Homo sapiens: one gene and its partners. The protein of the gene in region 1 interacts with the protein of each later gene in a biochemical or structural test. Each region holds a gene or a part of one and is shown on either strand. Other genes may lie near its edges. The genes, in order: GRB2, MAP2, WAS, REPS2, FASLG, CSF3R and MET.

Region 1 (4,388 bases):
TTAAACATTATAATTTGTACTTCACTACAATTTATTTTTTTTAATTGAAAATAAAATTGCGTTAATTTTAAGCTGGGGGCAAGAAAACACAGCAGCCATGTCTATGTGACACCAGACAGAAAGGTCTGGAAACCTAAGTGTTAGAACCGCCAACACGTGCTGCCTCTGGGGAGTTTGAGGGAAGCATCTTACTTTTTATGTTTGCTTCATGTACATCTAGGCTATTTCAGTTTATATTCATTATTTTATACCTACAAATGGGAAAAAACCTCCCTAGTGGAGAGATCTTGGGGGCCTAGGAGGAAAGAGAGCCTTGCTGATTGAGAATCTTCACCCTCACCATTGCTATTGGAAGTGGCAGTGGTGGGGAGTGTGGGGCAGTGTGGGGAGAGCCAGCCGAGGCCATGTGTGGATTTTCACTGCTGTACCCAGTCAGATGCATGCTGCATACACTTATATTAGAAACCCAGGGCCCCCCGATATGAGAAGGTTTAAATACCGTTGATTGGGGCCCCCCGATTGAGAAGGTCTCAATACCGTTAAGTGTCCTTATTTATTTATTTATTTATTTATTTATTTATTTTTTGAAAGCGAGTCTCGCTTTGTCGCCCAGGCTAGAGTGCAGTGGCGCGATCTCGGCTCACTGCAAGCTCCGCCTCCCAGGTTCACTCCATTCTCCTGCCTCAGCCTCCTGAGTAACTGGGACTACAGGCACCTGCCACCACGCCTGGCTAATTTTTTGTATTTTTAGTAAAGACAGGGTTTCACCGTGTTAGCCAGGTTGGTCTCGATCTCCTGACTTTGTGACCCGCCCGCCTCGGCCTCCCAAAGTGCTGGGATTACAGGCGTGAGCCACCACACCCGGCCTATTTAATTTTTTTGAGATGGAGTTTCACTCTTGTTGCCCAGGCTGGAGTGCAATGGCACGATCTCGGCTCACCGCAACCTCTGCCTCCCGGAGATTCAAGCGATTCTCCTGCCTCAGCCTCCCGAGTAGCTGGGATTACAGGCATGCGCCACCGCGCCTTGCTAATTTTGTATTTTTAGTAGAGATGGAGTTTCTCCATGTTGGCCAGGCTGGTCTCGAACTCCTGACCTCAGATGATCCGCCCACCTCGGCCTCCCAAAGTGCTGCGATTACAGGCATTGAGCCACCGCACCCAGCCTCCTTTTTTATTTTATTTATTTATATATTTTTTTGAGACAGAGTCTCACTCTTTCGCCCAGGCTGGAGTGCGGTGGCACAGTCTCGGCTCACTACAACCTCTGCCTCCCAGGTTCAAGTGATTCTCCTGCCTCAGCCTCCCGAGTAGCTGGGATTACAGGTGCCCACCACTGTGCCCATCTAATTTTTGTATTTTTGGTAGAGAGTGGGTTTCACCACGTTGGCCAGGCTGGTCTCAAACTCCTGACCTCAAGTGATTCACCCCACCTCAGCCTCCCAAAGTGCTGCAATTACAGGCATGAGGTACCGGGCCCAGCCTGTCCTTTTATATTTAGAGAGCATTCTATTCTAGTGATATGTGATTTCTCTTGTGTGGCCTGATTTCCAGGCACTGCAGGCCCTAGCCTTGAGTTATTTGTAGAAGCAGGAGGATCTATTGTCCCAGCTCCTCAGCATCCTGGCAGTAGAGTATGCAAAATGAGAAAGACTCCAAGCAGGTAGATGTCAGACTATTCAGAGTTACTAAGAGTCCCTAGAGGCTGACACACACACACAAGGACAAAGTTACTAAGGGCAGCTTCTAAGTGTATCCTTCCTAGCAGATCACATCTTTCTGTTTGAATTTGAGTATAGTATATTATTTTAGGTACATCTTCCAATATGGTTGCTTATAAGTAAGATATGTAAATTAGCCGGGCGTGGTGGCTCGCGACTTTAATCCCAGCACTTTGGGAGGCTGAGGCGGGCAGATCTCGAGGTCGGGAGTTCAAGACCAGCCTGGCCAATATGGTGAAACCCCGTCTCTATTAAAAATACAAAAATTAGCTGGGCGTGGTGGTGGCCGCCTGTAATCCCAGCTACTAGGGAAGCTGAGGCAGGAGAATTGCTTGAACCCAGGAGGCGAAGGTTGCAGTGAGCCGAGATCGTGCCACTGCACTCCAGCCTTGATGACAGAGTGAGACTCTATCTAAAAAAAAAAGGGCCGGGCGTAGTGGCTCATGCCTGTAATCCCAGCACTTTGGGAGGCCAAGGCAGGCGGATCAACAAGGTCAGGAGATCGAGACCATCCTGGCTAACACGGTGAAACCCCATCTTTACTAAAAATACAAAATATTAGCCGGGCATGGTGGCGGGCGCCTATGTATAGTCCCAGCTGCTCAGCTACTTGGGAGGCTGAGGCAGGAGAATGGCGTGAACCCGGGAGGCAGAGCTTGCAGTGAGCGAGATCGTGCCACTGCACTCCAGCCTGGGTGACAGAGCTAGACTCCTCAAAAAAAAAAAAAAAGAAAAGATATGTAAGTTAGATTTACAACTTTAATGGACTATTTGGTCCATTAAAAGGACTTTTGATATTATAATTAGCATATTAAATGAATGCCAGTTTCCATGTTTATAGGTCTTTATTTGCTATAACTTTTGCTTTTAAAAATGATAACTAAAGACAATTTTGAGAAGAGAACATGGTTTTCACAGTTTCTTCTTCCTAATTATAGTTTTCATTTGAAATAGTGAGGCAGCTTGACTTGAAGCTCTTGTAGAAGTGTTCCTCTCCTCTTCCTCTTGATAAGCCACAGCCAGTTGCTTCACAGTTTTTCATGAATTTAGCCACTTTTTCTTCTGGCCAAGGTGAATCAGCAATTGGGAGCAGAAGAGTCTGCAACTTGCCTCAAAAATCTGAATTTTGCAGCTAGCTGCTGAGCATATGGTAAATTACAATATTCCTGGTGGCTTCTGAAAGCTGAACTCTGAGCAGTGGCCCCAGAGGCAGGCCTTGAGAGGAATGCTGACCTTAGTTACTGGTAGAGGCACCCTCATACTATCTGAACCTTTTGCCTTTGGGCTGTTAGCAAAAGTAACCCTGCCTCCAGCTCCTGGCCGTCCAGGTTTCCTCCCCACTTTCCCTTAGTCCCACTGTGGTGAAGCTGTGATCTTATCACATGGCTGCAGGAAGGGGCCAGTCTCTCCTTGGCAGTTCATCCCGTACACCAAGCCCAAAGGCCTGAGCTTTTCCCCAGGCGCCTTTGTCATGAGTCAGTAGGGAGTCCAGTGGGCTTTGGCCTGGGGGGCCCATTTTCAAATGTCTCCCTCTATAGAAAGAGTGACCCACGGTTAGTGCCTTGGTGAGTCGCTTTCTGGGAAATGGAGTAGGCTAAAGACCTTTGAAGGTCCATCTCTGGGGACCCAACCCAGTGTCGATCTTGGGCACTGTGAGGCTGGAGGATGAGGAGGGAGGCCCCTTCCTCTGGCAAGGAGTGTTGTGTTACTCACATTTTGAAGGCTGGATATCCCGTTTCTTTGTGGGGAAGCAGATGTTGACCAGCTTGCCTTCCTTCCTTAGGTGGTTTTTTGGCAAAATCCCCAGAGCCAAGGCAGAAGAAATGCTTAGCAAACAGCGGCACGATGGGGCCTTTCTTATCCGAGAGAGTGAGAGCGCTCCTGGGGACTTCTCCCTCTCTGTCAAGTAAGTATTTCCTGCTGCAGTTGCCTGGAATCCTGTCTCTGACTGATCCAAATTGTGAAGCCGTTGGTCAGGTGCCTGGCTACACACAAAATGGTGGAGGCTTAGCCTAAACAGTTTCTTCATTTCACATTAAAATCCTAATTTCTGGCTCCTCTCAAAATGAGTTCTAGAAGCACTGGATGTAGATTCCCATGTGGACACAGCCTTCAGGAGGTGAGCAGCAGCTCCCTGCAGCCAGCTGGAGCCTGCCAGTTTTCCCTAGTGCCCAGCACTCCTGAGCTTCTGCCCTCCAAGGGATTCCCGCAGCTCTCTCTAATGGGATAGTGGAGCGCCTGTCGGCTGCCTTGGCTTGCCTTGCTCAGGTCCACTGACTTAAATCAACCAGCCCCATCCTAGGCCCTCACAGTCACTTAAGAAGGCTGCTGCAGGGGATGTGGGGCTTGCATTTCCCCGGTGGAAAGTTCAGGTGTGAAAGGGAGCGGGTAAGCAGGGAATGGAGAAGACAGGAAGTTCTGCCGCCATGGAGAGTGTGGAGAATAGAAACCAGCACTTGAAGATTCTAAACAATTCACACCTCAGCTGTGAAGTCGGGATTTTGAATTAAATTGTTATTTCCATGTTTTTTACTTTCAGTTATTTTCTAGTTAATGTATTATCATAGGACCCTCCCCAGGAGTCCGGCAGATCACTTCATCAGTTATATATAAAGAAGTAATTAGATTCAACACTCAGATCACTACTTAGTTTAGATTACATTAAGAT
Region 2 (4,388 bases), on another chromosome or scaffold:
ATTCTTTTAACTGTAATCAAAATCTATGGCATTATAAAAATTTTCTTAAAATAACAAGTTAGAATTTAAATTTTTAAAATGCTACTTAAAATGCCATAATTAAATTACAAAACTAAAAATGAGTGCTAAATGTGAAGAGATTGATAATGTAGATTTTTTTTTCTCTCTCTGTTTCTCTCTGAGGATATTAATATTTCTAAAAAACAAAATAAAAGAAAATTCCTTTTCTTTTTATCTGTAGTCTTTCCCTCAGGGCCGTTTAAACAATGCACAATTATTTCATAAGAATTTTGTAAGAATCTTCCATTTACAAAACTATAAAACAGCTCATATATTTCTCTCTAATTCCTTAAGTGACCAAATGGAATTTACTTATTTTTACTGACATTTCAAGTGTAAATGAGAAACAAATTAGTGCAATAACTCATGAACTTGAAAAGTTTATCTTTACATCTTAAATGTTAACTTTTTTATGTGATATACATGGTTTGGGGGGTGGTTATTTTGGCCGTTTGATTGCCACTCAATTATCTTTCCTTGGTGATTTTGTTTTGAATTACAGAAATAAGACTTTATTACTAATGTGCATATTTTTTCTTTAGTGTCAAAGAGAATTATACATGAACTACATTACTGATATTTCAGGGAGTTTAACAATATGATAATAGTTGTGTCCCAGAGGTAGACTTTTGTAAACAGATTTAAATTTAACCTTGACCTTGTTTTTAACACATTTTATTTTACTTACTTTTTGAAAATGTTCATTTTCTCCAACATCATACAATGCAATGAAGCTAACATAACTTGACTTAGGTAGTCCCTTACCTTGGAAATGCTAAATAAATTATATTTTAAGTAAATTTGGTGGACTTTGTGATAAAGCTGTTAAGGTAGTTGGTTGGATATTCTTTTGAAGCAAGGCTTTTTTTATTCCCAAAGATTTCTTTAGCAAAATTTGCACATTTTAAATAAAGCAGCCGGGAATTCTTATGTAGGGGCTTCCTGCATTGGCGAAAACAGCACATGTCTAACAAATTTAAAGGCTTTTTTTTTTCAGTACATCAGTACATCCATCTTTTCACAACCATCTGTTATCCGGCAGTACCATCTCTTATTTCCAGCAAGCTTTCCACATGCGTGCAACTTACTGCCGTTTCCAATAAGGGTAATCAATCAATACAACCCTTTCAGCTCTCAAACTTTAAAATAAATTGCCTTTTAATGAGACTTTAAAAGTCATCACTATTAGCAGATTATACATCATAGTTTTCCAACCAGTACCTAATGTATGTTGCATTAGAATATTAATTTGTTCATCCCAATGGTAAAATAAAAAAACAGCTGAGGTCTTCATGAGGTCATTCTAATGGAGCTGAAAGTGTTCCTTTAGCAATATTTCTGTCGTTTCATGTATTGTTCTGTGGTCATGATGTCAACATCTTTTTCATCCCTAAGAAGAAGAAACGCTAGAGAGTCGGATGGCTGAGGAAGAGAAACCTGCTGCTCTTCCTGAGAAAGAGTGTGGGGCTGCTAAGTCCTCAGACCAACCCAAGGGCCTCAGTAAGGGCCAAATGGAGTCTAGTGCGGAGGCCCAAATAGTTCCCGAAGAGAGTGCCCCAGCAGGGGCCCCACATGAGAAAAGTGTAAAAGAGGTCAAGGAGGTGTCTCCAGAAGTAAAAACCCCTTCCTCTGCTGGGGAAGGTGTGTCTTTCTCAGGATTTGCATGTGTTTTGTTGCAAATGATCTCTCCAGTGGCTTACCAACCTGATGCCTTTCCAACGCTATTTCGCTATTTCATCGCTGGGTCTTATGATAACAAGTCCACTGTTGTAGGCTTAATGTGCAGAGAGTGTGGCTTGCGCAAGTGCTGTGTGGCAGCTGGTTTTCCAGTGCTGCAGCTGATTCCTGGTTTTCCTTTGCCATGATACAATACGCTTTGCAGCCAGGCTGATGATGCTATGTGAGCTTCTTTTTTTATTTTATTTTTTTACCCGCCCCCCCTCATCTCAAATGTTTGCCAGTCACATTGCTAATACATGTATATTTTTGTTTTTATTTTGGGGACAGCAATTCATATGCTTTTATTTCAAATCGTACAGTTGGATTTTGGCACATAGAGGCTTAAATGGTGGAATCGTTTTTGTTTGCAACCGAAATGTGCTATATTTTTTATGCTTCAATGAATACTGGTTTGATTTTCTTGACCTCCTGCTGATGCTTCTCATATCATTTTCTCCCCATGGCAGCCAGCCCTTCTGATCATCCCCATATCTCTTGAGTTTTCATTCATCTAACCTTTATTAGAAGTTCATCAAGTATTTTTTTTTCTATTGTTACAACAGGACACATAAGTATATAAGGTAATGATGATCCATACACTTGCTCTTTTAGAGATGATTGAATTTTATTATTTTTCCCCAAATCTTTTCCAGATAACTACATTTAGCTCTAATGACCACAGTGAACTACTTTGACCTTAAAACACAAGTGGGACAATAAAGCCTTTTGGATTGTTGAATAAATAAAAGTAAAAATGTGTTATCTAATTTCTGTGAAGCACCTCTAAAGCCAATACTGGCCAATGCTTCACCAGTTAGTCATGCTCCAAGGATTGAGGTCATGACCATGGGAATAAAGTTATTTCAATAGTTGACTCTTTTGAAAAGTTTGTTACTCACATGACTTCCCAGTATCAACAGTGTAATTCAGATTTTCTTATATCTACCGTACAGACTAAGTAATGATTAGGAATTTAAATTTTTAAATATGTAATAGAAACTGGCTTGTAAATTCTTAAGTCATATCATATAAAATTGATAGCAAATATTTACTTATATTTCTGAAATTTATCCTCAGATGAATTCTAAAAATTTATGCCAGTAACCTGTGGATGCCTAAAGAATTGGCCCTGACATTTGTTAATCAAGTTAACTGCAACTATTAACATTATATCATTGTGCATTACTTGGCCCTCTGCCCATAGCCTACCAATTCATTTTTAAATGATAAAACCAATGAAAATGTTCAGTATAAATCAATTCTTTATCTATATTTAGTCCTTACTATATATTCTTTTGTACCCTAACATTAGCTGCTTACTCAATATTCATTAGCTTATAACTTTTATGTATAGAAGGCACATGAATTTGTTTCTTCTGTAATACACATCACATAATGTTTAGGAGAGACCAAAAAAAAAAAAAACAAAGAAAAAAAGAGAAAAGAATATCCAGAAATATACTGTTCTTACAATTCCTTTGCACATTAATTTACAACCAGAGTTCATTTTAGTAATAGTACACATATATCTCAGTCCTGACCTTTTCATATTGACTTTTACATGGGTAGCATGCTTGCATGTTCCATAATTTTTGTTTTTATTCTACCATTCATTTATCACTTCAAAATATAATTTTAAGCTTATTTCCTGAACGCACTTGCCTATTATTTGTTTAAAAATCAACCCGATTACTTCAGATTTACTTACAGCCTCGAAGATGGAGTTCCACGATCAACAGGAATTGACTCCCTCTACAGCTGAGCCTTCAGACCAGAAGGAAAAGGAGTCAGAGAAGCAAAGTAAGCCTGGTGAAGACCTTAAACATGCTGCCTTAGTTTCTCAGCCAGAGACAACTAAAACTTACCCTGATAAAAAGGACATGCAAGGCACGGAAGAAGAAAAAGCACCCCTAGCTTTGTTTGGGCACACTCTTGTTGCCAGCCTGGAAGACATGAAACAGAAGACAGAACCAAGCCTTGTAGTACCTGGCATTGACCTCCCTAAAGAGCCTCCAACTCCAAAAGAACAAAAGGACTGGTTCATCGAAATGCCAACGGAAGCAAAAAAGGATGAGTGGGGTTTAGTTGCCCCCATATCTCCTGGCCCTCTGACTCCCATGAGGGAAAAAGATGTATTTGATGATATCCCAAAATGGGAAGGGAAACAGTTTGATTCTCCCATGCCAAGTCCCTTTCAAGGGGGAAGCTTCACTCTTCCTTTAGATGTCATGAAGAATGAAATAGTTACAGAAACATCGCCCTTTGCCCCTGCCTTTTTACAGCCAGATGACAAAAAATCTCTGCAACAAACCAGTGGCCCAGCTACTGCCAAAGATAGTTTTAAAATTGAAGAGCCCCATGAGGCTAAACCTGACAAAATGGCAGAAGCACCACCCTCAGAGGCAATGACCTTACCCAAAGATGCTCACATTCCAGTTGTAGAAGAACATGTTATGGGGAAAGTTTTAGAGGAAGAAAAGGAGGCCATAAATCAAGAGACTGTGCAGCAAAGGGATACTTTCACCCCCAGTGGACAGGAACCTATACTTACTGAAAAGGAAACTGAGCTGAAGCTTGAAGAAAAAACCACCATTTCTGACAAAGAAGCT
Region 3 (4,914 bases), on another chromosome or scaffold:
CAATGGCCTTGAAGGCCACATCGGGGCTTGCCCTGATCAGCAGGTTGGAGGTGCTCCAGGCCCGAAGCTTAGCTGTGAGTGGGGACACGGGAGGGAGGTTGGAACTGCCACTGCAGAAGGGGTTCTGAACCTAGGTTCAGGAGAGAGGCTTTGAACCTGCACGTGTGGGAAGCCATGGAAGTTTCCAGGAAGGACTGCAGGTCCCAACTGGAGATGTGCCGTTCCTCCTTCAGGTACCTGGGAATGTCAGTCACACCCCAGACCTGCTCAGCTCCCCCAAACTGCTGTTCCTGTATCTGAGAGCTTCAAGTCTCCAAATGGCCTACCTCATACATGGGGAAACTGAGGCCTGGGGAGGCCGGGGACTGAGCTAGCATTCACTTGTGGAAATAGTCTGGCATCATCTGGAGAAGTTAGAGACATGCAAACCCTACAGCCCTCAGATTCCCGTCTGAGAGTCTGCATGCCTATGTGGACCAGGAGATGTGTGCGGGAGTGAACACTGCAGTGTTGCTCCCAACAGCAAGAACCAGAAGCAGCCCAAAGGGCTGTTACAGGAGAATATGGACACCCAGGCTGCACATGCACACCATGGAATGCTGTATGGCAGTGGAAATAAATGAACAGCTACCACTATAGGCAAACAGGAATCACAGCAACAGCCAAGAGTGAAGGCGTGGAGGGACGAGACCATGCACTCACACCTGGCCTGCCTGGCTCGCACTCCGGGCAAAGGGGTCAGAACAGTGACTGGCACACACGTTAAGTGCTATGTGAGTGTTAAGATAAAACTAGGATGTCCAGTGGGGAGAAAGCAAGCCTTTGAAGATTATGTGCTTTTACAAACTTCAAGTGCAATGAAAACTAAACAAGATGTTGTTCAGGCATTCATATATGATATAAAGTTCCTTTCTTTAAAAAAGGGATGGGCTGGGCACGGTGGCTCACGCCTGTAATTCTAATACTTTGGGAGGCCGAGGCAGGTGGATCACGAGGTCGAGAAATCGAGACCATCCTGGCCAACATGGTGAAACCCTGTCTCTACTAAAAATACAAAAAAATTAGCTGGGCGTGGTGGCGTGTGCCTGTAGTCCCAGCTACTTGGGAGGCTGAGGCAGGAGAGTCACTTGAACCCGGGAGGCAAAGGTTGCAGTGAGCCGAGATCGTGCCACCGCACTCCAGCCTGGCGACAGAGTGAGACTCCATCTCAAAAAAAAAAAGAAAAAAAAAAGTATGACAAGCAGAAAGTAATTTGGGAGCTGCGGGGAGGCAAGGGTAAGGGATGGGGAAGTGGACCAGAGGCATATGCGTCATTGGCAGTGTCTAAGCACTCACGATAGGCGTGGATCACAGGGGCTCGCTCTGTAATTAAAAGGAAAAGGGTTTTTGTTGTGTTGTTGTTGTTGCTGTTTTTGAGACAAGGGTCTTGCTCTGTCATCATCCAGGCTGGAGTGCAGTGGTGCAGTCTCAGCTCACTGCAACCTCCGCCTCCTGGGTTCAAGCGATTCTCCTGCCTCAGCCTCCTGAGCAGCTAGGACTACAGGTGTGTGCCACCATGCCTGGCTAATTTTTGTATTTTTTAGTGGAAATGGGGTTTTGCCATGTTGCCCAGGCTCGTCTTGAACTCCTGACCTCAAGTGATCCACTCGTCTCGGCCTCCCAAAGTGCTGGGATTACAGGTGTGAGCTATTGTCCCCAGCCAAAAGGAAAAGTTTTACTGTAGTAACCCTTCCGGACTAGGGACCTCGGGCCTCAGCCTCAGGCTACCTAGGTGCTTTAGAAAGGAGGCCACCCAGGCCCATGACTACTCCTTGCCACAGGGAGCCCTGCACACAGATGTGCTAAGCTCTCGCTGCCAGCCAGAGGGAGGAGGGTCTGAGCCAGTCAGAAGGAGATGGGCCCCAGAGAGTAAGAAAGGGGGAGGAGGACCCAAGCTGATCCAAAAGGTGGGTCTAAGCAGTCAAGTGGAGGAGGGTTCCAATCTGATGGCGGAGGGCCCAAGCTCAGCCTAACGAGGAGGCCAGGCCCACCAAGGGGCCCCTGGAGGACTTGTTTCCCTTGTCCCTTGTGGTTTTTTGCATTTCCTGTTCCCTTGCTGCTCATTGCGGAAGTTCCTCTTCTTACCCTGCACCCAGAGCCTCGCCAGAGAAGACAAGGGCAGAAAGCACCATGAGTGGGGGCCCAATGGGAGGAAGGCCCGGGGGCCGAGGAGCACCAGCGGTTCAGCAGAACATACCCTCCACCCTCCTCCAGGACCACGAGAACCAGCGACTCTTTGAGATGCTTGGACGAAAATGCTTGGTGAGCTGGGGATCTCCTGCCCCCGCCCCGTCCCCACCGTTTCTTCCTCTTCCTCTCCTCCTTCTCTCTCTTCCCCTCCTCCCGCTCCTCCTTTCCCTCTCCATCATCTCCTCTCCTAGAATTTCCCGTCATAATCCACCCTTCCCAGGAAGATCTCAATGTCTACTTGCCTTCCCTCTGGCTGCAGCTCTTCCTTTGGGCCCATGACTGTCATGAGGCAGGAAGGACCAGGTCTGGCTCCAAGACCTTGTGGCTACCCCTGACCAGACTCCACTGACCCCTGCTTTCCTCTCCCAGACGCTGGCCACTGCAGTTGTTCAGCTGTACCTGGCGCTGCCCCCTGGAGCTGAGCACTGGACCAAGGAGCATTGTGGGGCTGTGTGCTTCGTGAAGGATAACCCCCAGAAGTCCTACTTCATCCGCCTTTACGGCCTTCAGGTGACCCCCCCACCCCCGACTGGACTTGCAAGCCAGTTCTCAACCCGCAAACCCAGATCTGTGTCCATATGTGTCCATAGCTTCAAGACCTCAGACCTGATCAGTGAATCCCTGAGCCCCAGAACCAAAGACTCATCCAGATGGCAAACTCTGACTTGCCTTTCTAAGTCTGCAATGACTGGCCCCAGTCTCCGTATCAAGATCTCTAAAGCCCCCAGTATTAGTCTGCTGCCTAAGCCTAATCTTTTCCACAAATTCCAATAAATGAGCACTGTATTTGTACCTGAACCTCAAATCTATTCTAAACTCAACATTTTGCATCCCAGGAATCTCTCATCAAAACTCCTGAACCCCAGATGTTTGCCAAGCTCCTAAGTCATAAATCTGTTCAACAAACCCCAAAGTTGAATATTCCATTGATCCTTGAACTCCAAATCTGTCCTTCTAAATCCACAGCACAGACCCCAGAGTTCCCATATTAAAATTCCTGAACACTCAAATACCGAGGTAGTTCTTAAGCAAAAAGTCTTTTCCACAATCCCCTGACCTGAACTTTCTAGGTTTAAGCCCCAAATTCATCCTTTTAAACCCATAAAGATGGACCCAGCATAACTTCCAGATCCCAAGGCTATCAAATATCCACCAAACTCCTAAACCATAACTCTCTCCACAAACCCCAAATTGCACTTACTTTAGCTGGACTCCCCGCGAAACTCCCAAGTCTATGTGTCTGAACTTCAAATCTCAACTCCAACCCCCAAATACTAGAATCCTACCTGTCATGAATTGGGGCTGGGGTGGTGGGGGAGGGCATGGATTGAATCTGTGAATGAGCCTCAACTTCCTAAGACTAGAGTCCTAAATTATGAAATTCAAGCCCCCAAGTCCCAGATCTAGGGCCCCAAACCCCAAATCCAAACCTCTCACAAAAGTGTATGGCTCCCAGACTATACCCCACAATCCACACCCTTAGACACCAACTCTCTGGTGCTGAGCTGAAAATCTCCAAACCAGACTATGAGGCTCCCAAATCCAGACACCCTGCTCCCTGCCCAGCTAACAAAAGCCTGCCACCCCCGGCGTGCCTCAGTGCCACTGTGCCTCCCACCCTACACCTCTCCAGGCTGGTCGGCTGCTCTGGGAACAGGAGCTGTACTCACAGCTTGTCTACTCCACCCCCACCCCCTTCTTCCACACCTTCGCTGGAGATGTAAGTGATCAACCAGCCCTCGGGCCTCACTTGGGGTGTGGAGAGGAGATGGGAAAGTTGCGGGGGACCTGGGAGGCGGCTGACCCCAAGGTATGTGCAGGACTGCCAAGCGGGGCTGAACTTTGCAGACGAGGACGAGGCCCAGGCCTTCCGGGCCCTCGTGCAGGAGAAGATACAAAAAAGGAATCAGAGGCAAAGTGGAGGTGAGGAGGCCACAGGGGAGGAAAGGAAGTTGGGCAGAGGTGAGTGCAAGCCTGGGGAACTAGAAAAGTCCCCTCTCATGGTCCTGGCTCCCAATCCATCTATCCACAGACAGACGCCAGCTACCCCCACCACCAACACCAGCCAATGAAGGTGAGTCCTCTAGTGCAAGTAGGGGTAATAAGGGGCTAGCCCAGGAACCTGTGGCAGGGCTGTGATAACTCTCTACACATTCCATCTTCCCAGAGAGAAGAGGAGGGCTCCCACCCCTGCCCCTGCATCCAGGTGGAGACCAAGGAGGTGCGTGCTGATTCTTCCCTGTGTCTCTGGATGGATGGGTAAGAGTGGATGGAGGAATGAGGAGTTGGATGGGTGCGTAAGTGGGTGAATGGATAGGTAGATTGATAGGTATGTGGATGGACGAGCAGGTGCATGGATGTGTGGACTGATGGATGGGTGGATGGATTGGCGGTAGATGGCTGAGTAGAGGGATGAATTGATGGGAGGATGAAAGTCTAAGTAGATAGATGCATAGGTGAATGGGTATGTGGATAAATGAATGAAAAGGTAGATGGATGACTGAGTAAATTAATCAATGAGTGAATGAATGAACAGTGAATAAATGACTAAATGACAAGTTTCAGTCAGTGAAGAAAGCATGATTGAATGAATAAATGAGTAAATGAATATTTTAACAAATTCATTAGTCAATGAGCCAGTGAATGATAAAGCATGAGGGAATGAAAACATGAATGAATCAGTGA
Region 4 (4,388 bases), on another chromosome or scaffold:
AAATGCTGCCATTACCCATTTAGCAGGTTTGGAACCAGAACAGGGAGGATAGGCTTTTAAAATTAGACCACTAATTGCAATGGTCAGATGATGATTGGTGGAGACAACAGTATAAAATCTCAGAAGAGTGGGCAGATCCAGAAGAAGTAAATAGTCTACACATTGGTGTACCCTGCAGGCATCAAGGTATAGCTCATACTTCCAGCAAAGATACTGAATCATGCAGAGAAGTCAAATTATGTTCAACATAGTGTCTTCTATAAGGTAAAGAAATTTATTATAGGAACACTTGAGGCTGGGCACGGTGGCTCACGCCTGTAATCCCAGCACTTTGGGAGGCCAAGGCGGGTGGATCACAAGAGGTCAGGAGTTCAAGAGCAGCCTGGCCAACATGGCAAAACCCTGTCTCTACTAGAAATACAAAAATTAGCCGGGCGTGGTGGCATGTGCCTGTAGTCCCAGCTACTTGGAAGGCTGAGGCAGGAGAATGGCTTGAATCCGGGAGGCGGAGATTGCAGTGAGCCGAGATCACATCACTGCACTCCAGCCTGGGCCACAGAGCAAGACTGTGTCTCAAAAAAAAAAAAAAAGGAACACTCGAATGAAAATGTTTTTAAAATGCAATGAATATTAAATGATTATGTTGGAAAACTAACTTCTGTGACTTACCCTGTGATGTTGTGTAGATGAGGTGTTGCTACAGAAGTTTTATATGGATAGTTAGGGGAGGTGTAGCACATCCTGTTAAACAATTCCATGTACTGTCACTTTCATAATTCTGACACATTTTAAATCAGTTCTTCAGGGATATATTTAAAAAGGAAGAGGTATAGGAATTTTCAGTCAATATTCTTTGGCATATTTTCCCACCAGCATTTGGAGAGGAATGAGGGTCCACTGTCCCACGGTGGTTGATGCCCTGGGAAATTTCCAGGCCCAGTCCCTGATTGTGTGAATGAGAATACATCCTTTCACTTCAGGCTGAGTTTATGCATGCCCCACCCAATCTATGGGTGTGAGCTCATGCTTTAGAGCAAACATATTTTGCTTTTTCTTGAAGAAGAGTATTTGATCAGTATTTCAGATTACATATTTCTCTTTAGACTAAGGGAGCCTATATATATAGTCTGTGTGTTGATAGAAAGCATTGTTTTGGCTGGGTGTAGTGGCTCATGCCTGTAATCCCAGCAGTTGGGGAGGCCGAAGCAGGAGGATTGCTTGAGCCCAAGAATTCAAGACCAGCCTGGGCAACATAGCAAGACCTCATTTCAAAAAAAAAAAAAAAAAATTAGCTGTGTGTGGTGGCGCATGCCTGTAGTAGCTACTGGGGGTGCTGAGGTGGGAGGATTGCTTGAGCCCAGGAAGTCAAGGCTGCAGTGAGCTATGATCACGCCACTGTGCCCCAGCCTGGGTGACAGAGCGAGACCCTGTCTCAAACAAACAAACAAACAAAAAAAAGCACTGTTTTCTTGGTACTTGAATACTCCAAAGTTACCAGTCTACTAGTAAAGTTTTTTTTTTTTTTTTTTTTTTTTAAAGAGGAAACTCAGCAGCAGATAAGGTTGCTTACTTTGCCTAGGGTTCTACATCAGGTTCATATTTGAATTGAGATTCAAATTGTAGCTTGTTAAGATTTCATCTTAGTGTTTGGGAGTAAGCTGGTTGGAATGGTTTACCTATAATGAATTGTTTTGCAGTCTCTCATTGTTAAAAAAAAAAAGCTAGCATTTTACTTTGACATGGTAAGCTCCAAGAATATTAAGTATTAAGCATTTAGAAATATATATTTTAATATTCACATTTGCTGGAAGACTTGATAAGTATAAATCCAGGAAATAAATTTATTAATGAATGAAAATGAAATCTATCCACAGAGAGATCACAATTGGGAGCGGGTATGAATGTTATTTCATGTGATCAGTGTCTTTCATTTTCCAAAGGAAAATATTATTGGAATAACCAAAAGTGTTTCAGGCTGGTTTTAGTAATTTAGGTAACTCAGCACTGATGAGATTTTATTCTCTGGGAGACTTTTTGAATCCTCAGACACTGCTGTTTAACCATGCTGCATTTTTGAGAAAACATTTCCCCCCATTTGTTAAACCAGCTGGGTCACCAGCAGTAGAGTTGCGTTATGCTTCCTGACTGCAGCTCAGAACGCCAGGCTTGAGTGAGCGCCTCTGAACTCTGATCTGGTTCTTTGAAGCAGGAAACACAGTCTCCCACGATGTCACCCCTCGCCTCCCCTCCTTCTTCCCCGCCTCATTACCAGAGGGTGCCCTTGAGCCATGGCTACAGCAAACTGCGGAGCAGCGCAGAACAGATGCATCCAGGTAAGAGGCGACCTGGGGGCCAGCTGTCCCAGGCAGTGTCTTAGAGACTCCTTAATTTACCAGGCGGTAACGCTTCAAGCTGCTTAATTTCCTGATTTAATTACCCCTGTCTTTGGAAACATGGCTCAATTTAATTTTATATTCTCAAGCAAGGTTTTTTTTTAAAAATTGATTTAAACATATTTGAGTAATGTTTCATCTCCTGTCCTAGAAACTAGTTCGTCTTTAGACTTGTAAACAGCTAGATGATTTAATCTTTCATATACAGATTTTATTGAATAGAACATACCATATTAAGGGCTTGTATTTTTTTTGGAATTGTTATTCCTTTCTGTAAGCACACCAAAGATATTTATATAGTAACTGCTTTAATGAAATTTCTTAAGAAATATAACTGCAAAAGCAAAAGAGTTGATCCAACCTTTGAAGACTGAGCACGTAAATGAAAATATATAGGTCCTGTGCTTTGGAATAAGGATAAAGGAAATGCTAGGGGTAGCATTTTGCTGAGGGGTATGTAGCATGCACAGTTGTGGGGTTGCCTTCTTGCTCACATTTATGCTCTGCTGGCCTCGTTAGGTGGTAAAATACGTTAGTTCTGAGGATGACTTGCAGAGTTGGCTGTTTAGGCTGCAGTGCCTAAAGCACTGGAAATTCACTGCAGCATCTTGTGCCTCCTGGGGTTCAGACTCCTAGTTTAAGATATGACCAATTAAAGGTATTCTAGAACTGGATATCTGTAAACCCCCACCCCCCCAGTTTTGTTTTGTGGGCTGTGGCCCCAAATGACCCAGTTTCTGCAGGTTTTTACTGCATTAAAAATAGTGGTGACTTTTAGAGGGACACAGAAATAAAACTGCGCGCTAGGCTGAATAAAGAGAGGCTGTAATCTTGCAGAGAGAAGCAGGCGTGGCATAATGGCAATAGCTTTTGATTGGAAGCAGAAGGTGTGTGGGTTTCTGTGACTAGCTGTAGGACTTTGGGCAGGCCATTGAACATCTCTGAACCACGATTACCTCTTCTCTCTTAAAATGGAGTAACAGTATCCTAGAGGGGTATTAGAAGATTAAGTGAGAATGTGAGTATAAAATCTGTTTGGAAATTAAGTCCTATGCACATGCAAGATGATGTTGCTAATGGATAGTAACAAAAAAATCACTGTCCTGTAACTTGAATATCTCAGTGGGGTTAGAAACTAAATGGAGTTGAGAATTCTTCATTTTCCTCTTATAGTTTCCCTGATCTGATTTCCCTATTTTCAGGAGTGGGTTTTTTTTTTTTTTTTCCTATTTCTAATCTTACTTGGGTTTGGAAGTTGGTTTTTAATTCACAGGTGAAACTTTTTGTTCTACTGAGTCAGCCTGTCAGCAAGTTCTACCTTTGGTATTCCTTAGAAAACTTTTCTGTTCCTCCTCCTTAATGCCCCATTCCCTCCTCATTCCATACAAATTGGGCTTCCATTTCCCCAGTGGTAAGGAAGCAGCTTGCTTCTCTCCATCTTTCTTGACTCTCAGCAGCCTGTGCCAAAGCTGTCCATGCCTTCATTTCTTTTCATACTTTTTTAAAAGTGAGGTAAAATATACATATGATAAAATGTACCCGTTTTATTTGTTCATTTTTGAGACAGGTTCTCACTTTGTCACTCAGGCTGGAGTGCACTGGCGCGATCATGGCTCACTGTAGCCTTGATCTCCTAGGTTTAGGTGATCCTCCCACCTCAGCCTCCTGAGTTGGTGGGATTACAGACATGTGCCACCACACCGGGCTAATTTTCTTTTTGTATTTTTTTGTAGAGATGGGATTTCGCCATGTTGCCCAGGCTGGTCTCGAACCCCTGGACTCAAGCGATCCGCTCTCCTTGTCCTCCCAAAGTACTGGGATTACAGGTGTGAGCCACAATGCCTGGCCATGCACATGTTTTAAATCTTCAATTTGAGTTTTAGCAAATGGATAGGCCCTTGTAGCTACCACTTTGATCAGTAATTGAACATATCCATTATGCCAGAGATGACCCTCTCCGGTCACTCCCTGCCCCCTAACGCAATCACTGTTCTG
Region 5 (3,525 bases), on another chromosome or scaffold:
CTACATGATTAGTATATGTTAGACTGTTGCCATTTACGGTTTTAAAATCTTTTTTTTAAAATGATTGGATTTAAATTCCCACCAAAATAATAGTTGCTATTTCATTTTAACATATATTTTTCCTCTCTCTATGATACAGGCCACCCCAGTCCACCCCCTGAAAAAAAGGAGCTGAGGAAAGTGGCCCATTTAACAGGTCTGTATCTGGAAGGTACAGGTGAGATTTGGGAAAGCTTTTGGCAAAAGGCAAAATGGCTGCCTGGTTTCCATTACCAGGCTCTAGAGAGTTGTTACTTCCTGGAGACAGTATTTGAACCCAATAATACTAACACTTTTCTTGTCGAGTCAGTCTTATGAACACACTTTGATCCCCTATTCTCTGGGCAAGGCCCTCTTCTAAATTGGAGACCTGGAGCTGATTATGACATGACCCCTGCCCATAAGAAGCTCATTCTTTTCAGTCATTCCAAAGTCCCTTGGGGGATTGGGGGCACAGATCCAAGAGGTGAGAGATGAGAAGGTGAGGAATGAGGACTTATTTTAGTCAGTGCTTTCTTGGTTTTCTGGAAGAGCTTCACTCTGCTTTGTCCAAGAGTATAAATAGGAGTGAGAAGGGAGACTCAATCCTGGCACTTGTAGAGTTTCAATATGTGCCTGTAAAGTGGAGTGAAATGATATGGTATGGGCACTCCCATTATAAACTACATAAATAATGGAATAAATATCACAGAAAGTGGTAGGCTATTGTCCCTGGAATTATTTAGGCAGAAATTATAGAATGATCCGGTCACATCAGCAGACACTTACTGAATACCTGCTGTGTGCCAATTTGGGGATGTGAAGATGAGTAGCACATGGCTCTTGCCCCCAGGGAGCTTGACATCTAATAGGGAAAGACAGGCACTTATGATAATTTCAGTACTTCAGAGATTTAGGTTATGTTCATGATGTTGTGGGGATACAAAGAAAAGGGAACTGTACCCCAAATTGAGGGGCTGAATAATTCTTACTGCAGGTGAGAAGATGGACCAGATGGTCCCTAAGATCCTTCCCAACTTTAGAACTTTAGAGTTCCTTGGATTTGGCTTTTTCCTTCAGGAAAGGACTTCAAAGCCTAGCAGATTTGGTGCTAGTTCTGAAGATAGTAAAATCTTTGTTCCAGAGAGCAAATATTTTCTCAATAATTTCTTACTGCAATGGATTACGGGTATATACTATTGTTCCAATTGTGTGGATGACAAAATAGGACAACGTTGTTGAGGAAATTCTGTGATGGATCAAGTTCTGACCCCTCAGCCAGTTCTATACCAGCTGTCATTCTGGGTGAAACATTTGTTGAAGGAAGGGCCCACAGTTTTGCCTTAGAAACTTAGTTTGTTGGATGCATGACTATTCCTTGTTGAAAGCTCCTTTTGGATTTATTTCAGGCAAGTCCAACTCAAGGTCCATGCCTCTGGAATGGGAAGACACCTATGGAATTGTCCTGCTTTCTGGAGTGAAGTATAAGAAGGGTGGCCTTGTGATCAATGAAACTGGGCTGTACTTTGTATATTCCAAAGTATACTTCCGGGGTCAATCTTGCAACAACCTGCCCCTGAGCCACAAGGTCTACATGAGGAACTCTAAGTATCCCCAGGATCTGGTGATGATGGAGGGGAAGATGATGAGCTACTGCACTACTGGGCAGATGTGGGCCCGCAGCAGCTACCTGGGGGCAGTGTTCAATCTTACCAGTGCTGATCATTTATATGTCAACGTATCTGAGCTCTCTCTGGTCAATTTTGAGGAATCTCAGACGTTTTTCGGCTTATATAAGCTCTAAGAGAAGCACTTTGGGATTCTTTCCATTATGATTCTTTGTTACAGGCACCGAGAATGTTGTATTCAGTGAGGGTCTTCTTACATGCATTTGAGGTCAAGTAAGAAGACATGAACCAAGTGGACCTTGAGACCACAGGGTTCAAAATGTCTGTAGCTCCTCAACTCACCTAATGTTTATGAGCCAGACAAATGGAGGAATATGACGGAAGAACATAGAACTCTGGGCTGCCATGTGAAGAGGGAGAAGCATGAAAAAGCAGCTACCAGGTGTTCTACACTCATCTTAGTGCCTGAGAGTATTTAGGCAGATTGAAAAGGACACCTTTTAACTCACCTCTCAAGGTGGGCCTTGCTACCTCAAGGGGGACTGTCTTTCAGATACATGGTTGTGACCTGAGGATTTAAGGGATGGAAAAGGAAGACTAGAGGCTTGCATAATAAGCTAAAGAGGCTGAAAGAGGCCAATGCCCCACTGGCAGCATCTTCACTTCTAAATGCATATCCTGAGCCATCGGTGAAACTAACAGATAAGCAAGAGAGATGTTTTGGGGACTCATTTCATTCCTAACACAGCATGTGTATTTCCAGTGCAATTGTAGGGGTGTGTGTGTGTGTGTGTGTGTGTGTGTGTGTATGACTAAAGAGAGAATGTAGATATTGTGAAGTACATATTAGGAAAATATGGGTTGCATTTGGTCAAGATTTTGAATGCTTCCTGACAATCAACTCTAATAGTGCTTAAAAATCATTGATTGTCAGCTACTAATGATGTTTTCCTATAATATAATAAATATTTATGTAGATGTGCATTTTTGTGAAATGAAAACATGTAATAAAAAGTATATGTTAGGATACAAATAATTTTTAGAATTTACTAATATTTGAATTTTTTGCTTATTATTTCTTTCCTCCTTGATTTCTTCATTCATTATGATATCAGACCACTTTTAAGAATAATTTACTGGAGTGAGAAGAACTATGAATCAAATCTTTCTGCCTTTGCTAGGCCTTCCTTCTCTCTATATATTCTCTTTCCTCTTCACCTCCCAGAGTTTCCATTACCAATATTATGACCAATGTTAAGCTTAGCCAACTTTCCATAGATTTGATGAGAAATTATATTTTCCTGAAGGCAGAACCATGGCACAGTGGAAAGGGCACATATTTTGGACTAAAAAACTTAGATTTGAATCTTTGTTCTTCCACGTACTGCCTATGTAAGCACTGGTTAGGTCACTTGACCTTCCTTGAACAAAAAAAGAGCTGAAAGTATCAGACACATAGAACATCAAAAAATAGTGTCTGCCACTACTAAGCCACTCTATTAGAGCCACTTCATTCTCCAGAGGCCACTGATCTGTGGGATCCATCTAAGCACCTGGTTTCTTGTATTCTCATGCTTGTCATTCACAACGGCCTTTTCCTATTTTCTTCAACCACTCACTATCATGGGCTCTCCCTAGACTTTGTTATCATTAAAAATTATAGTAACTCCTTTGGAATTTGATTTTAGGTGTCTTATTTTCACAACATCATCTTCTATTATTCCAGCGGAATTGGTCCAACATTTTCTTTTCTAAAATATTTTTGAAAATATTGAGACTTCTAATTAATAAACTTTATTATTTTCTTATATACACATCAGCTCCTTCCACGTCTTCACTTCTCTCTATGTCCAGCATAAATGTCATCATCTGTCATGAC
Region 6 (4,388 bases), on another chromosome or scaffold:
TGCTGGCATGAACCTGTAGTCCCAGCTACTCAGGAGGCTGAGGTGGGAAGATCACTTGAGCCTAGGAGGTCAAGGGTGCACTGAGCCGTGATCGTGCCACTGCACTCCAGCCTGAGTGACAGAGCAAGAACTTGAAGAAAAAAAAGAAAAGAAAAAGAAAACCAAAACAAAACAACAACAACAAAAAAAAAAAAACAGCAGGGACAAAGATCCAGAGATTAGAAAGATTTTGGAGTTTTCAAAGAATAGCAAGAATGAGCCAGAATAGCTGGAGCTGAGAGACCGGTATAAGCTGGAACTGAGAGGGTCAGGCAGGGGCCAGGCCACAGGAGCTATTGAAGGATTTGAGTGTTTATCCTAATGATGGCAGCAAATACTCACATGCCAGACACTGCTCTAAATGCCTTCCATATGTTATCGCATGTAATCCTTCCAGCAACACTAAGGTAGGGACGATTTTTATCCCCATTTTACAGATGAGAAAACTGAGGCACAGGAAGTCTTAGAAATATACCAGGATCATGTAATTAATAAGCAATAGAACCAGAATTTAAACCTAGGCAGTCTAGTTCCAACATCCACACTCATCCATCACACCACACTGCCTTTCAGAGCAATAATGTGCCATTGAAGTGCTGCGATGGAGATGGGGTAGCAGAATCAGATTTGAATTGTGAAAAGATTGCTGTGGCTATGGGTTCTTATCACTCTAATCACTGCTTGCACCATCCTTGGGGAGGGCACTGGGGAGTTAACAGTCTCCATCTGGTGGTGTGCTGGTGCTGGCTTGCAAAAACTAATTGTGCACATCTCTTCCCAACTCCCCGATCAATGATGTCACATCAATAGGCTGAAATCAGCTACAGTGAGAGCACTTACACCGCGGAAAGGCACACACTACAAACCAGGGTCTGCTTTTCTCTGCCAAGCTGGCTGATAAACGGTTACCAGCACATCACTATCTCTGTGTCACCCCCGTAGCCTCTCGAAGTCTCCGTCCCCATCCTTCCATTTCCAGCCCCCATATCTTGAAGGGTGAGACAGGAAGGTGAGGCCTCTGAGTCTAGGAGTACAAAGGCCTAGATTATAGCCCAGCTCTGCTAGGCAGAGGCGTCGTTCCTGGCCCATTCTCTTCCACCCCAGGTCTGGAGGAGTGCGGGCACATCAGTGTCTCAGCCCCCATCGTCCACCTGGGGGATCCCATCACAGCCTCCTGCATCATCAAGCAGAACTGCAGCCATCTGGACCCGGAGCCACAGATTCTGTGGAGACTGGGAGCAGAGCTTCAGCCCGGGGGCAGGCAGCAGCGTCTGTCTGATGGGACCCAGGAATCTATCATCACCCTGCCCCACCTCAACCACACTCAGGCCTTTCTCTCCTGCTGCCTGAACTGGGGCAACAGCCTGCAGATCCTGGACCAGGTTGAGCTGCGCGCAGGCTGTAAGTCCTTCCAGCCATCCAACTACTCTGCCTCCAACACCCTCCTGCCAATACTAATAAGAATATTACCAGCCGGGCACGTTGGCTCACGCCTGTATTCCCAGCACTTTGGGAGGCCGAGGCAGGCGGATCACCTGAGGTCAGGAGTTCATGATCAGCCTGGCCAGCAAGGCGAAACCCCGCCTCTACTAAAAATACAAAAAAATTAGCCAGGCATAGTGGCGGGTGCCTGTAATCCCAGCTACTCGGGGGGCTGAGGCAGGAGAACTGCTCGAACCCAGGAAGCGGAGGTTGCAATGAGCTGAGATCACACCACTGCACTCCAGCCTGGGCAACAAAAGCGAAACTTGGTCTCAAAAAAAAGAAGAAAAAAAAAAAAGAGTACTACCTATTGAGCTCTTATCTAATAAGCACTTTATGGGCATGATATCAGGTAACAGTAGTACCAGTTGGTACTACTATGTAGCCTCACTTTGCAGATGATGAAACTGAGGTTCAGGGAGGGTAAGTGACTTGCCCTTATCACACATTAATAAGGATGGAGGCAGTGTGGCTCTAAAGCCAGTGTTGTGACCACTACTCTACATAGCCCAAGTCCTCAGCCATCTGAGGGTGTCTCCAGGGAGAACATCCTCTACCAGCTGGGCTTGTCCCCCACCCCAGTTTCAAACTTCCTTTCAAACTGAGCAGGATGGAGTTTGTGCCAAGCTGAGGCATAAGGAAAAAACAAAGACCGAGGTTCTTGTTTAAGAATCAGTAATGGGCCAGGTGCAGTGGCTCACACCTGTAATCCCAGCACTTTGGGAGCCTGAGGTAGGTGGATCATTTGAGGTCAGGAGTTTGAGAACAGCCTGGCCAACATGGGGAAACCCCGTCTCTACTAAAAATACAAAAATTAGCCGAGTGAGCCGAGATCACGCCACTGCACTCCAGCCTGGGCCACAGAGTGAGACTCTGTCTCAAAAAAAAAAAAAAAAAAAAAAAAAGCACCAGTAATGGCCACTGCTAACACTTACATAGCATTTCCTGTAAGTTAGGCACTGTTCTGAGCACTTCATGTAGAGTGAGTCATTTAGCCCTTGTGATAACGCTAGGGGGTGGGATTTTACCATTATCCCCATTTTACAGATGAGGATGCTGAGGCATGGAGCAGTTAAATAACTTCAAGATCACAGGGCTAATGAATGGCAGGACCAGGATGAAAACTCAAACACTACACTGTCACTGACAAAGGGTCTAGAGTTGGGGGCCTTGGAAGTGGGCCACCACTGGGCTGCTGGGAGTCTGTGATGCTTGCCCCGGTGCATGCCTGCAACTTAGCTTCCCCCAGGGCTGCCCTTCCAGAGCCACTCTGCCTGGAGACAGGGGGACAGACAAGGTGACAACAGAGGAACCAAGCCAGGGCAAGGCAACAGGGCCAGCTGGTCCCAGAGGAAGCTTTCTGAGTGGTCCCACCCAAAGCCCTCACACTCTTCCCACCCACATGCAGACCCTCCAGCCATACCCCACAACCTCTCCTGCCTCATGAACCTCACAACCAGCAGCCTCATCTGCCAGTGGGAGCCAGGACCTGAGACCCACCTACCCACCAGCTTCACTCTGAAGAGTTTCAAGTGAGGAGGGGCCCCCACCTTGGTCCCCTCCCTTTGGATTCTGGGGTAGGGCATGGGTAGGATGCTGGGCATGCCTCTGGGAGGGAGAAGGGAGCCTCGCTTTCTTCCTCTGCTTGGCACCCAAGCCTGGACTATTGGCAGGAGCCGGGGCAACTGTCAGACCCAAGGGGACTCCATCCTGGACTGCGTGCCCAAGGACGGGCAGAGCCACTGCTGCATCCCACGCAAACACCTGCTGTTGTACCAGAATATGGGCATCTGGGTGCAGGCAGAGAATGCGCTGGGGACCAGCATGTCCCCACAACTGTGTCTTGATCCCATGGATGTTGGTGGGTGATGCAGGGGAGGGAGGGGATCCCCAAAATGGGCAGACACTGAGAGGAATGGAGAGGGAAACACAGAACTAGCGACAGACAAGAAGACACTGGAAGACCTAGAGACAGAGGCACAGAAGAGGGACAGAGACAAAGAAAGGTGCAGCTGGAGACAGAGAAATGGGGACACAGACCCAGAGACAGGAAGAGACACAGAGGCAAAGAGACACATTCAGTCATGCTTTCAGCGTGTTTCCTAAAGCACCCACTACATGTTAGGCACTGCTCTAGGTACTGGGGATACAAAGCATCAAAAATGCCCTCAGAATGTTAGATTCAAGTGGGGGGGAAAATAAGATAGAATTTCAGATAGCAATAAGCAGAAAGGAGAAATTAAAGGAGGAGAAGGGCATAGAGAGAGAGGGGGGAAGGGGAGCACTGGCTATTTTAATATGCTGGTCAAGAAAGGCCTCACTAAGAGGGTGACAATTGAGCAGATCCTTGAAGGAAATGAGGGAGCAAGCCGCTGGATATCTGGAGGGAAAACATTTCAAGCAGAAGTAACAACCAGTGCAAAGGCCCTGGGGCAAGAGCGGAAACAGAGACCTAGAGAGAAACAAAGACACATAGAGATCGAACCACAGAAACGTGTCATTGGCAACGTGGACAGATGGTGAACCACAGACAGGGAGACAAGAGGGAGCTAAGGCAGAGCCCTCTAGGGTGGGATAGGGAGACCTTCTGACAGCCCCACTCCTTGCAGTGAAACTGGAGCCCCCCATGCTGCGGACCATGGACCCCAGCCCTGAAGCGGCCCCTCCCCAGGCAGGCTGCCTACAGCTGTGCTGGGAGCCATGGCAGCCAGGCCTGCACATAAATCAGAAGTGTGAGCTGCGCCACAAGCCGCAGCGTGGAGAAGCCAGCTGGGCACTGGTGAGGCAGAGGGCAACCTGGAGAGCCTGAGGTGGTGGGGGCAGGGGGCAGGGTAAGTCGGGCTCGAGCTGGCCCTAGAATGGCCCAG
Region 7 (4,388 bases), on another chromosome or scaffold:
CCTTTTCTTCTATCCCTTGTTATTCCCTCTACCAGCACCAAAAATTTGCTAGTACATTGCAAAACAATGAGAATTACAGATAAAATAGCAAGCATTTATATATACTCTATATTGATCAAAGTGCTTTCAGAGATGAGATCTCTTTTTGATCCTTAAAATGGTCACGTGAGAATATCTGACCCTGGGACTCAGAGGTGGGTGATTGCCTGGAGTCACACAGCTAGAGAGGGAAAGGGCTAGAATCAGAGGGCTGATTGTCTGACTTCTGTTCTAGTGCATGCTCCCACCTCGCTTTGGAAGCTGCTTCGGCATAGTGAAGCACTTAAGAGCATGGATGGGTTCTTGTTAGCCAGACGTGGAATTGAATCTTGGTTCTAACTGTGTGATTTTAGCAAGTTTGCTTATCTAGAAGAGAAGGATAATAATACTTCCTTCTTCACAGGGTGGTGATGAAGAGTAAATCAAAGAGTTTAGCAGAATGCTTCCCATATGGTAAGCACTCAATACATGTTCTTGTTATTTTTATTATTACATGGCTTTGCCTTACTGAGGCTTCATCTTGTCCTCTGGTCCAACTACAGTTCTCTAGCTTGGCTTATCCCTTCATAACCTGTACCCCCAGTGGCACGATCTTGGCTCACTACAACCTCCGCTTCCCAAGTTCAAGCAATTCTCCTGCCTCAGCCTCCCAAGTAGCTAGGATTACAGGCACCTGTCACCACACCCAGCTAATTTTTTTGTAGTAGAGATGGGGGTTCACAGTGTTGGTCAGCCTGGGTTCAAACTCCTGACCTCAAGTGATCTGCCCACCTCAGCCTCCCAAAGTGCTAGGATTACAGGCATGAACCACCGCGCTCAGCCAGGAATTTTCATTCTTTATCCTCCTTTGAGACTCGGCTCTAGCATCATTTCCAGTCGAGTTGGTCTCCCTTCCTCTGCATTCTGATAACTGTTAACCATCAAGTGACTTGAGCTTCCCAGGGAAGGGCATCATGTCTTTGTAGACATCCAATAAATGTTAGTAGAAGAAAGGGGGGTCCTGCCAATAATCATATGTCTTTCCCACAATTTAAACTCCTTTTCACCCTGTTACTACTTTTTGCTTGTCTTCCCTTTGATAAACATTCTACTTCTTCATCACCCATTCCCTCAATTTAACATCTGATACTACTATAGAAACTACTGCCTTGAAGATCAACAAACGGGTTCCATGTGGACCAACGTCCTCCTTGAGACCCTCACTTGGCTTTTGTGACACAGTGCAATATTTGCTCTCTTGATGCCTCACTGACCTTAACCTTCCTTGACTCCTGCATAGATTTCTCAACTGTGGGTATCCCCTAAGATTTAGGCCATTTGCCTTCTCTTCTTTCATCTAGTCCATTCATGAACACACCCATTCCTGGTTTTAACCATCACCTCTGTGCAGATAATGTGCAAAGTTTATTTCTAGTCGGAGTGGAGTCTCTGTTACTCTGCCAATCAAGTTCTAAATTTTTATTCCTTCTAGTGCAGCAGTGGCAAATACCTGACACTCATGTGTCTCACTCAAGACAGATACTGTTTCACCCAAGACTGATCATGCCGCTTTCCCAGTCAAGGCAGGCTTCTCAGAATCCTTCTCATTTCCGCCTCTGTTCTTTGGCACTAATGCTCTGTCTGCCCAGAGTTTTCATTCTTCACTTGTTCCAGGCACCTGCTTCCTGGTGAATAATGTAAAACCTGCTAGTCATCCTTATAGGAGAATATGCACTCATTTCCCAGCAGCACACCCGACTCAACGTGGTTAAAACCAATCTACCATTCCCATATATTCAGCCTAACTTCCCAGTGCAGTCTACCCTAGTTTTATAACTTGTTCTACTTTTTCCAGATAACTGCTAATCATCTTTGTTTGTCTTTGCTTTCTTTTTTGCACTGTGTTTGATATATTAGGGTATCAAATCCTACTTATTCAAATATGTCCCTTATTCATTCCTTCTATCCTTGGTGCTACCATATTTGTTCTGGCTCTTGTTACCTCATTATGGGATATAAAAATAGCCTGTCAACTGGTCTTTCCATTGCCAGGATCTCTCTGTTCTAAGCCACCCTGCCTCCAGATCAATCTTCCTAGAGTAAAACCTTCATTGTATGACGGTCTAGCTCAAAATTCCTTAATGATTATTAATCACCTCTTAAAGTCCCCAATTCTTAGACTATTAGTAGGGTAAAATTATTTTTGATTTGGAGTCAAAAAATTTTGGACGCAAATTTTGGCTACTACACTTAACCATTATGTAACTTCGAATTTCGGCTTAATTTTTATTCATCATTTATTCAGTATCTATTTGTTTAACACCTTCTGCATCTCAGGCTCTGTACTAGGTACTTGGGATACAATGATGAGCCAAGCAGACCTTGTCCTTGCTCTCCTGGACCTCACAACATGGTGAACTTGTCTCTATTGCTCATGATCATAATAATCCTAAGTACAGGCTGTGCTTTTTTCCCTTGATACTTGTAGCTTTTGGTTTGTGCTATGCAGGGTATTGTAATACCATTTGCAGTGCCACAATAATCAGCATATATGTGTTATCACTCAGCCACATTGCAGCTTCACTGAAGGGCAGGGGCTATGTCCCATTTCTCATAGCGCAAGCACAGTGCCCTGCACATACCAGCTGCTCAGTGATTTCTGATGTGGTTTTTGTAGATCCAGGGTTAGTCTTTGGCAGTCATGATGCCTAGTATGTTTTTAGAGGCTCCCTTTGTCCTATCAGAATTATGCTATTTAAAAAAAAGTCATACCTATTTAGTTTATATTCATTCTAAGGCCTCTCCTTTCCAACCTACTACCCTGCCTATAACTATTATAAGGAGAACTCACAATGTTTATAACTTGTGCACCTTAAGTTTTAAATACTGAATAACAGGCCCATTCATGTTTCCTCATAGAAATACTGTCTATATGCATACAATGAAATGTTAAAATAATGTTCTTTTTACTAAATAGCTTTTTGACTTGGTAATGAACAATATGTTGTTTTTCCCTGAGAAGTAGTTCTAGGACTTTAGTTCTGAAGATTATGTTGTATTTTATACATTTTCAGCCTCCTGTTTTTCAGTTCCCAGTGATCTTACATTAAACATTTGTCTGTCTAAAACAATAGGTTAACTATAGCCAAATTATAACCATACCATTCCTCTCCACACAAAATCCTATAAACAGCATGTGATCATATTGCTTCTAGAATTTATGATTGTTTTCTTCCAAAAGGAAGCTAAATTTAGCCTAGTAATTCTACATGCGCTCAAGAAAACAATGCCTGCTGTGATTTCTAGAATAAATGAATGTGAACCACAGTTCCTTTACTTGACTAACAGAGAAAGTTTAAATATCAACCTAGTCATTAACCACAGTTATTAAACCACGTTAAACAACCAGCAAGGGGTTAAGAAAGAAAGTTGCTATGTTTTTTCTTTCATTGCTGAATGAGTCTAACTTAGTTACTGTATCAACCTTAATACAGAACATTGTTTGCATCTCAATGGTTCTCTAAAATTATTCGTTCATGGCTTGAGTTCTAAAATTAAACTATGTGGAGTCATGTCCAACCGCACAATGCATCTTTATGTGAAACTTGCTAGAGTTTTTGTTTTCCTTCTATGTAAAAGTCCAGTTGGGAAGCTTTATTTCTGATAGATTAAATGGTATAGGTCTTTCAGTTTTCTCTTCATTTCTGACAACTGAACTGCTCTCGCCTTGAACCTGTTTTGGCAGATAAACCTCTCATAATGAAGGCCCCCGCTGTGCTTGCACCTGGCATCCTCGTGCTCCTGTTTACCTTGGTGCAGAGGAGCAATGGGGAGTGTAAAGAGGCACTAGCAAAGTCCGAGATGAATGTGAATATGAAGTATCAGCTTCCCAACTTCACCGCGGAAACACCCATCCAGAATGTCATTCTACATGAGCATCACATTTTCCTTGGTGCCACTAACTACATTTATGTTTTAAATGAGGAAGACCTTCAGAAGGTTGCTGAGTACAAGACTGGGCCTGTGCTGGAACACCCAGATTGTTTCCCATGTCAGGACTGCAGCAGCAAAGCCAATTTATCAGGAGGTGTTTGGAAAGATAACATCAACATGGCTCTAGTTGTCGACACCTACTATGATGATCAACTCATTAGCTGTGGCAGCGTCAACAGAGGGACCTGCCAGCGACATGTCTTTCCCCACAATCATACTGCTGACATACAGTCGGAGGTTCACTGCATATTCTCCCCACAGATAGAAGAGCCCAGCCAGTGTCCTGACTGTGTGGTGAGCGCCCTGGGAGCCAAAGTCCTTTCATCTGTAAAGGACCGGTTCATCAACTTCTTTGTAGGCAATACCATAAATTCTTC

What was found.
Region 2: the proteins of GRB2 (region 1) and MAP2 form a complex in vitro, tested with the Homo sapiens proteins (3 studies listed by BioGRID and IntAct).
Region 3: the proteins of GRB2 (region 1) and WAS form a complex in vitro, tested with the Homo sapiens proteins (2 studies listed by BioGRID).
Region 4: the proteins of GRB2 (region 1) and REPS2 form a complex in vitro, tested with the Homo sapiens proteins (2 studies listed by BioGRID and IntAct, with this or other methods).
Region 5: the proteins of GRB2 (region 1) and FASLG form a complex in vitro, tested with the Homo sapiens proteins (2 studies listed by BioGRID).
Region 6: the proteins of GRB2 (region 1) and CSF3R form a complex in vitro, tested with the Homo sapiens proteins (2 studies listed by BioGRID, with this or other methods).
Region 7: the proteins of GRB2 (region 1) and MET form a complex in vitro, tested with the Homo sapiens proteins (3 studies listed by BioGRID and IntAct, with this or other methods).

What each region holds. Positions count from the first base shown.
Region 1 is NC_000017.11:75,325,136-75,329,523, reverse strand, and holds part of GRB2 (growth factor receptor-bound protein 2), read left to right. Parts: intron 1-3,503; coding exon 3,504-3,626; intron 3,627-4,388. UniProt on the Homo sapiens protein: Non-enzymatic adapter protein that plays a pivotal role in precisely regulated signaling cascades from cell surface receptors to cellular responses, including signaling transduction and gene expression.
Region 2 is NC_000002.12:209,689,148-209,693,535, forward strand, and holds part of MAP2 (microtubule-associated protein 2), read left to right. Parts: intron 1-1,455; coding exon of another isoform or gene 1,456-1,701; intron 1,702-3,477; coding exon 3,478-4,388. UniProt on the Homo sapiens protein: The exact function of MAP2 is unknown but MAPs may stabilize the microtubules against depolymerization. They also seem to have a stiffening effect on microtubules.
Region 3 is NC_000023.11:48,681,685-48,686,598, forward strand, and holds the start of WAS (actin nucleation-promoting factor WAS), read left to right. Parts: upstream 1-2,114; 5' UTR 2,115-2,169; coding exon 2,170-2,301; intron 2,302-2,598; coding exon 2,599-2,739; intron 2,740-3,862; coding exon 3,863-3,949; intron 3,950-4,049; coding exon 4,050-4,152; intron 4,153-4,261; coding exon 4,262-4,303; intron 4,304-4,396; coding exon 4,397-4,450; intron 4,451-4,914. UniProt on the Homo sapiens protein: Effector protein for Rho-type GTPases that regulates actin filament reorganization via its interaction with the Arp2/3 complex. Important for efficient actin polymerization. Possible regulator of lymphocyte and platelet function.
Region 4 is NC_000023.11:17,022,853-17,027,240, forward strand, and holds part of REPS2 (ralBP1-associated Eps domain-containing protein 2), read left to right. Parts: intron 1-2,206; coding exon 2,207-2,333; intron 2,334-4,388. UniProt on the Homo sapiens protein: Involved in ligand-dependent receptor mediated endocytosis of the EGF and insulin receptors as part of the Ral signaling pathway. By controlling growth factor receptors endocytosis may regulate cell survival.
Region 5 is NC_000001.11:172,664,195-172,667,719, forward strand, and holds the end of FASLG (tumor necrosis factor ligand superfamily member 6), read left to right. Parts: intron 1-139; coding exon 140-196; intron 197-1,427; coding exon 1,428-1,822; 3' UTR 1,823-2,682; downstream 2,683-3,525. UniProt on the Homo sapiens protein: Cytokine that binds to TNFRSF6/FAS, a receptor that transduces the apoptotic signal into cells. Involved in cytotoxic T-cell-mediated apoptosis, natural killer cell-mediated apoptosis and in T-cell development.
Region 6 is NC_000001.11:36,472,429-36,476,816, reverse strand, and holds part of CSF3R (granulocyte colony-stimulating factor receptor isoform a precursor), read left to right. Parts: intron 1-1,143; coding exon 1,144-1,440; intron 1,441-2,929; coding exon 2,930-3,053; intron 3,054-3,194; coding exon 3,195-3,382; intron 3,383-4,130; coding exon 4,131-4,300; intron 4,301-4,388. UniProt on the Homo sapiens protein: Receptor for granulocyte colony-stimulating factor (CSF3), essential for granulocytic maturation. Plays a crucial role in the proliferation, differentiation and survival of cells along the neutrophilic lineage.
Region 7 is NC_000007.14:116,695,308-116,699,695, forward strand, and holds part of MET (hepatocyte growth factor receptor isoform b preproprotein), read left to right. Parts: intron 1-442; exon of another isoform or gene 443-449; coding exon of another isoform or gene 450-492; intron 493-3,763; coding exon of another isoform or gene 3,764-3,777; coding exon 3,778-4,388. UniProt on the Homo sapiens protein: Receptor tyrosine kinase that transduces signals from the extracellular matrix into the cytoplasm by binding to hepatocyte growth factor/HGF ligand. Regulates many physiological processes including proliferation, scattering, morphogenesis and survival.